2 linked regions of the Homo sapiens genome follow. The protein of the gene in region 1 interacts with the protein of each later gene in a biochemical or structural test. Each region holds a gene or a part of one and is shown in the gene's direction. Other genes may lie near its edges.

What was found. The genes of interacting proteins can lie anywhere in the genome.
Region 2: the proteins of RUNX2 (region 1) and DTX2 form a complex in vitro, tested with the Homo sapiens proteins (one study listed by BioGRID).

The regions. Positions count from the first base shown.
Region 1 is NC_000006.12:45,425,690-45,429,341, forward strand, and holds part of RUNX2 (runt-related transcription factor 2), read left to right. Parts: intron 1-3,652. UniProt on the Homo sapiens protein: Transcription factor involved in osteoblastic differentiation and skeletal morphogenesis. Essential for the maturation of osteoblasts and both intramembranous and endochondral ossification.
Region 2 is NC_000007.14:76,499,681-76,503,223, forward strand, and holds part of DTX2 (probable E3 ubiquitin-protein ligase DTX2), read left to right. Parts: intron 1-760; coding exon 761-840; intron 841-2,524; coding exon of another isoform or gene 2,525-2,539; exon of another isoform or gene 2,540-2,554; intron 2,555-2,617; coding exon 2,618-2,776; intron 2,777-3,543. UniProt on the Homo sapiens protein: Regulator of Notch signaling, a signaling pathway involved in cell-cell communications that regulates a broad spectrum of cell-fate determinations.

The DNA.
Region 1 (3,652 bases):
TGGAATAAAAGCCTGAGAGCACTAGACTTTCTATACTCTTACAATATAATCAAATACATCTGCAATGAAGAAATAATATGAAGAAGTCTCCCTTTTAAAAGTGGTGACAGCAATTTGGCCATGATATTTAGAGCTATGTAAAAAATAGATTATAGTGGTTGTCAGGTCAATAGCAGATAGGTAAATGGATTTAAACACACACATACACACACACACACACAACTTATTTGTTGTGAAGTCTGATATTCAAATCAATACAATATTTATTGAGCCCGTATTTTGTATCTGTCACACTGAGCTTGACACCGCAGAGAATCAGAAATGAATTCAATAGACTGTTTTGAAATGTCAGTTTAAACTCGTGTTTAAACACGATATTGTCAATCTATTTCATTAAGAATGTATTAGCGTTGTTCATCTACTCTTGTTTCGAGATGATATAAAATTTATTTATTTTTACATGTAAAAATGCAAAAACAACTGGTATACTTTATATAAAGTTGTTTATTAACATTGTATTTTTAACAAAGTTCTGCAGTTTTGAAATGTTCGGTCCCCCCAGGTGTCAAGGAAACGGAAATAAATATTTTTAACATTTTCAGGTGTATCTCACTGAAACCTTAAAATAGTTAGGGCATACTATTAGAGGATCCCAGACCCTTTCTATCCTAGATAATTCTAGTGACAAAGAAGTAATTTGCAAATTCAGCTCATTAGCTGATGGTCAGGTAACGGTGGAGAGAGCGTGTCAACCATGCATCCAGTAGCACCCTTTTAGTTAGGGGTCTGTCAGCATTTCCACTGTGAAGCCTGGTGTTCAGGGTTCGTAACTTAGTTGCCTTAAATAGCTTCAAGCTGAAACACTATGCAGAAATTTTAAGTCCAGATGTATATTTTAAAACTAAAAGTAGTTCAAGTCTATTCTGCTGTTTTAAGTTAGAGAACACTGGACTACATATATTTATCAGTATCATATGTTTTTCTGGCAGTGTTAAAGAAAGAAAACACATTTTTAGATATATAAGCTAGCACTCATAGTTAATTCTGTATATTTAATAATACCTTTCAGTGCTTGTCAAAAGGAGGGGTTTCAAAATGACAGAGCAATTTCTGTTTGAAAATAAATTTTTGGCATCACTAGCCATTTTTCTCTCTTCGAAAACAAATATACAACTGGTAAATACTTGATACCAGTGAGTAGTATTTTTCTTACATAGTTAATGATCAGATTTTATGTTTATATTTTTTGAATCTCATTGTATCTAAACTAGGGAAAATAGGTTGTTAAGCCTGTTAAATCCTTATTAACCGTAATATAAATTATTATGCAAAATTATGTAAATCAATAGATTTCAAGTTGTGTGAAGACAGACACATTTTTGTGTTATGCCTTTGAATTCAAGAAAACTTATTTAAAGTTAAATATTTTGGGACTGAATATATAAAACTTCTAAGTAAGGAAGTTGGAACAAAGAATTTCAGGTGGAAAATAAATACTTATAAAATTTTTTAGAAAACTTCTATTAAATATTTGAAAATAGGTATGGTAGATATCTTTCATTATTTTTTCCTCTTTGGCATTATTGTTTGTATCCTTTCAAAATTCCAGAATATCTATTGTTAGATGATCTAAACCACCATGATACATGGCCCACAAATTGCTGCTTTACATTGAAATAATTTTTATCAAAATTTATCTTTGACATATATATTTTTAAAATTATGAAATGACATATTGTGTTTTTTCTCTAAAATTCAATGGGCTTTTCCTAAGTTCTAGGATAAATTCAAAATATTAACTGTAGTATTTGTTGAAATGTTTTGATACTGTATTTGAAGTTATCTTTAAGTAATTGTGATAGGAATAACATTTTTGCTTTTTGCAATTAGTCTCACTTCTCTTTTTATTGCAAAGAAAGATTTGATCAGATTTTATCTTGAAAAATAATTATATTTCAATTATACCGCAAGTACAATATCCTGAATTATTTTGGCCTATAAGAGTAATTGATTAGTTAAGACTAGACTTCTGTCCATGGAAATGTCATAGGCAATTTTAATTTCCATATAAAAAGATGAGAAACTGTTTTAAGGGTTTGAGTTAATTCTCCATTCCTCTTCTTTTAGTGATTCACAGATTTAGTCATAAGGAGTCTCATACAAAATTTCAATAGCATTACTACAGTTAAATATCCTTCTACTTTATTTTGTGCAAGCCACATATCATGTGATTTAAATGCTAGTTATGGTGAGGTGCGCTAAATAAAGGAACGTCTTTCTCTATTCTGAAATGTCAGGACAGAAAATTACTTCTCCTTTTCTCATGGAGTTTCTTGAATTTGTAGATTTTATATTTTAAAAAAACATAGAAATGTAATTGTTAAGATCATCACAAATTATTCTTTGCAGAGCAGTACTTTTGTATTGGGTAGGATGGAAGCAAATTCTAATTTGTGCTTATTCCTAACTAGTTAAAGAGCGAGTTTTGACTGCACTTTACCCCTTCAAATGTTTTTCCATTGCTTGGTTTTGGTACAGATGAAATGTGTAAAAATTTCTTGATTCTTTTGGTTTTCTTTTAGATAAACACAGTTGAGAATCTCCAAGGGAAACTTTTTAGCTTCAGAGATCTACTTAAAGAAAAAACCTCTCAAACATATAATTATACTTCTGATTGATATAAAGTCAAATACAGTACTTCCCCCAACTCCCAACCTTTTCTCCCCCTCAGAAAAACATCGGGCAATCTGATTTGGTAGAGTGAATAGCAGAAAAAAAACCAATATATTTAGCCATTAAACTAGAGTTCAGCTTTAACAGGAAAGATTGTCACTACCTTGCATTAGCATTTTTTTTCAGGTCTTGCTCTCAGCCTCATAGAAGGCTCACACAACTTGTGATTATTTATTTGTTTTGTAAAATGTGATACGTAAAACACACTAATATTGAATATGGTCATTATTATACTGCTTAAGCACAGTAAAATGGATGTATGTATTTCACTCTTAGGGATCTTTTCTTTCATATTTTCCCATATTGAATCAATTTTCCATTTCTTCTAACTAAAAAAAAATTCATTATGTTAAAAATATGCAGTAAAATAATAATGTCCCAGAGTTCTTGAAAACCTTTATATTGGGGCAGATTGCTTTTTTTTTTTTTTTTTCGGAAATGTAGCCAGACTTGAGTGAAATCCACCAGCAGTCATCCTGTATCTCTCAACAACATCAAAGAACATCTCAGAACATGAAGTGAGGAAGTACGTACTCAGTTGAACCCTTTAAGAATGCTTATAAGTAAAAGCCTATGTTTAACAGACAGCAGATTTGGAACAGAACACTGTGTTACCCTCCTCATCTTACAAAAAGCACATCATTATAATTACACTCTATACTTATATAGTATCTTCTACATTTTGCAGACTTTCCAATTCATATTGGAAAACTGTGGTTCCTGGAGATGAAGTTATTTTGTGTGAGGTCATAGCAGATATGTAGCAGAAGTGGGGAAAAAGTGGAGCCTCTTGATTTTGGTATATTCATTCTCTTCTAAACAGTACAACTTTTCTCCTGCCTTTATTAATATGCTTACTGGGTCCATATTTACTTTGACATAGAAAGCCACGCAGCAGGTGTTAAAATACAATATGCTG
Region 2 (3,543 bases), on another chromosome or scaffold:
ACGCCCCGGGCCGCGCCGATCCTCACCAGCTCAGGAGCTTCTTGTCCGTAGGAGAGGCTTTACTGGATGTGGGGTTCGGTGTTTATGGAGATGCAGCCCTTCTCCCTCCAGCTTCGTGCACGTGTGCACAGACAGCGAGTGAGGCCGTCAGGGTGGGCTCCTGCCACGTCTTGGCCCCTCCCCAGAGTCGCTGGACTTAGGAGCTAGTCTGCATGTGACAGACCTTCCCAGTCAGTGGCAGGCGTTTCCCGGGACAGTGTCTGTGTGGCGGTCGGCGTGTGTGCAGCTGCCTGTACATGCTGGACCCCAGACTCCCTTGTCCCTGTGATGTTCATGCCAGGGTAATGCAAGTTGAATCAAATCGTGGTGCCACAACGCCCCCTGGAGTAGTTTGTGCCCGAAGCGGCTGTCTGACTCTTCCGCGCAGCCTCAGAAGCGCCGGGGTCGGTTCCTCACTCAATGTGCGCGGGGATGCGGCTCCCAGGAGACTGTGCTGCTGTTTCTGCTCTTCTGCATCCTCCATGGCTCCTGGGGCTGAGCCGGGTCCCCGGACGGTGGGACTGGGGAAGGCTTTGCCCGACGGAGCTCGGGGCTCTGTGCCTGGCGCTGAGCTCTCCCGTCCCGCACACTGGCCTCCCTGTCTGGGCCCCTCTCGCATTTCCTCCTGGCAGCTTAGACCTCTTCCTTCCCTTCCTCGCCCTCTGGCCTCCTCTCCAGCCTGTGCTCCTCAGGACGCTGCTTATGTACTTCTCTCTTCTAGGAGCGACCCCGAAGCCAGAGCCAGAGCCAGAGCAGGTCATAAAAAACTACACGGAAGAGCTGAAAGTGCCCCCAGATGAGGTTTGTGTCTTGGGACCTTGGCTGCCTTTGTTTCTGTTTGGAAACAACTCCACATGGAAAGGACATCCGCCCCATCTTGCTTGAAGGGTGCTTCCCAGGTGCCTCTGGGTGCCAGGGCCTTGCTCCAGCCCCTTTGGTTTCATCTCCCAGCCTCCCGAGACCCACATCGTTATGGTCTGAGCTTTGCACTTAAGGAGCTGTGGTCCTGAGCAAAGCCCCTCCTCTCCCGGCCCTGGCCTCTCCATAGCCTGATGGCCATCCTGGGAGCAGGAATTCCAGAGACAAGGGATGGGCCAGCCTGCCCCACTCTCCACCTTGCGGATGCTGGTGTAGAAGTGAGGTGGCCTCGTCCAGGTGGCTGTCCTGCCCCCCGGCTATTGGGAGAGCTGGTCAAGGTTCTTATAATTTTTTTATTCTTAAAGACGGGTGCACACTGTCGCCCAGGCTCAGTGCAGTGGCGTGATCACAGCTCACTGCAGCCCTGTCCTCCTGACCTCCTGTAATGAACAGGACCAATCAGACTCCTGTTGCGCTTCCATAGAACCTGAACCTCTACTGAGCCACGTTTTGGGGGCTGCAGCACCACTTTCCCCTGATTTTAGCTGGGAGCCCTGGAGATACTGTTGGGGGAGGGGGTGGGTGAACGGCCGGGAGTACCAGTACCCAGAGATCTTCAGATACTTGGGGGCGGGTGGAAGGCCAGGAGCCCCAGTACCCAGGGACTCTTCACTTGTCTCTTTCTCCAGTCTGTTGAGTCCATGAGAAAAATCTGGTAAGTAAAGGTTTGGAAAGGAGCCTGAACGTCCTCCTCATGTGTCCCACCCCTTCCACAAGCCCTTGCCACATTCCCGCCTGCCCAGCGCTCAGCTCTGTCTCGGCCCTGGTGTCCATCTGGTGTGACTGGGCCGTTTCACCCCAGGCTCCTCCTCTCCAAGCTGCCGTCTGCACAGCCAGCACGCAGCTTGGATCATGGGAGCACTCCCTGCCTGGAACCGCCAGCAGGACCCCCAACTCACACACAGCCCCAAGCCCCTGAGTGTGGCAGCCAGACCCCCGAGGGCGCGCCTCTCCCTGATCCTGTCTCATCTCCTGCTCCCAGCCCACCCCCTGCCAGCTTTAGTGCCCATGAGCTGGCTCCTCGTTCAGAACGTCCTCCTCCCTCTTCCGGGTGCCCACTCTGTGCTTGTCCATCTGGCAATTCCTGTCTCCCTTGTAAGACCCCACGCCGAGGGCCTCCCCCAGGATCCTGCCCTGTCCGTCCTCCCCATTTGGTGGCTTCTGCTGTCATGTCGGGCCTGTGCTGCTGGTAAGCCCTTCAGAGGCACAGGTCCCGGTGACTCACCTGTGTCTCCAGCCTGTGGAATGGACTTTTTTTTTTTTTTTTCTGAGACGGAGTCTCGCTCTGTCACCCAGGCTGGAGTGCAGTGGCACAATCTCAGCTCTGCAACCTCTGCCCCCTGAGTTCAAGCGATTCTCTTGCCTCAGCCTCCCGAGTAGCTGGGATTATAGGCACCTGCCAACACGCCCAGCTAATTTTTGTATTCTTAGTAGAGATGGGGTTTTCCCGTGTTGGCCAGGCTGGCCTCAAATTCCTGACCTCAAGTGATCGGCCTCCTAGAGTGCTGGGATTACAGGCCTGAGCCACTGCGCCTGGCCTCGGAATTGACTTTGACTGCACTTCCAGCATTTCAGCACATGAAAGCCTCTTTTTCCAAGACTGGCCCACGTCAGCCCAGCCCACTGTTGGCGAGCATGACCCATGTTTGGTCTCCTCCAGGACTGCATCATCTGCATGGAGAAGCTGTCCACAGCGTCTGGATACAGCGATGTGACTGACAGCAAGGCAATCGGGTCCCTAGCTGTGGGCCACCTCACCAAGTGCAGCCATGCCTTCCACCTGCTGTGCCTCCTGGCCATGTACTGCAACGGCAATAAGGTGCCCCCACTGGCCCAGGGCGGAGGCGGGTGGCCCGCCCCCACAGTCCTGAGCTGTCCCCTGCAGGGGCGGGAGGGTTCCGGGGGTGGCTGTAGGAATGGGCCTCTGCAAAAGATGGTGCTGGGCGTGGGGCCAGCTTGAAGACCTTTCTAAAGGCCTGGCCGGCTCTCCTAGGCCTGCCCTACTCTTCTAGGTCTGCCCCACACTTTAGAAAGGAGGACCAGTGCGGCTGGTTCCCTCCACCCCTCCAGCCAGGCCTGAGAAGATTCTGGGCTTCTCTGAGCCCCAGGGCACCGCCTCCCCCTCGGCCACTTGTAAGCACCGCAGACACTGTCTCCCTTCTTCCTTACAGCATCCCTGTGCAGTCAGCACAGTGCTCATGAGGGAGAGGCTCAGAGCAGGGGCTGTGCCCAGGGTCACCCCACTGGGAGGTGGGAGCCAGGCCTTGAGGCAGGGCTGATCCTGGGCCCCACAGCAGCCTACACATGAAGAGCCGCGCCCAGACTGACCCCCAGCTGCTCTCCCTGCATCGGCCTTCAGGCGGGATGGGCAGAGTTTAGAGGCTTAGAGAACCGAGTCATGTGGCGCATCGGAGCCTGGCTCGGCCTTCCCTAGTGTCTGCCATCCTGGGCAGCCAGGGCCCAGCTCCGCAGATCAGACGCTGCAAGGCTGTCTATCCGACTGCAAATGCGATTCACCCGTGGAGATTTCTGCTCAGGATCCGAGTTTTCCCACTCGCCACCTGTCTCCTGATAGCATGTCCCTTA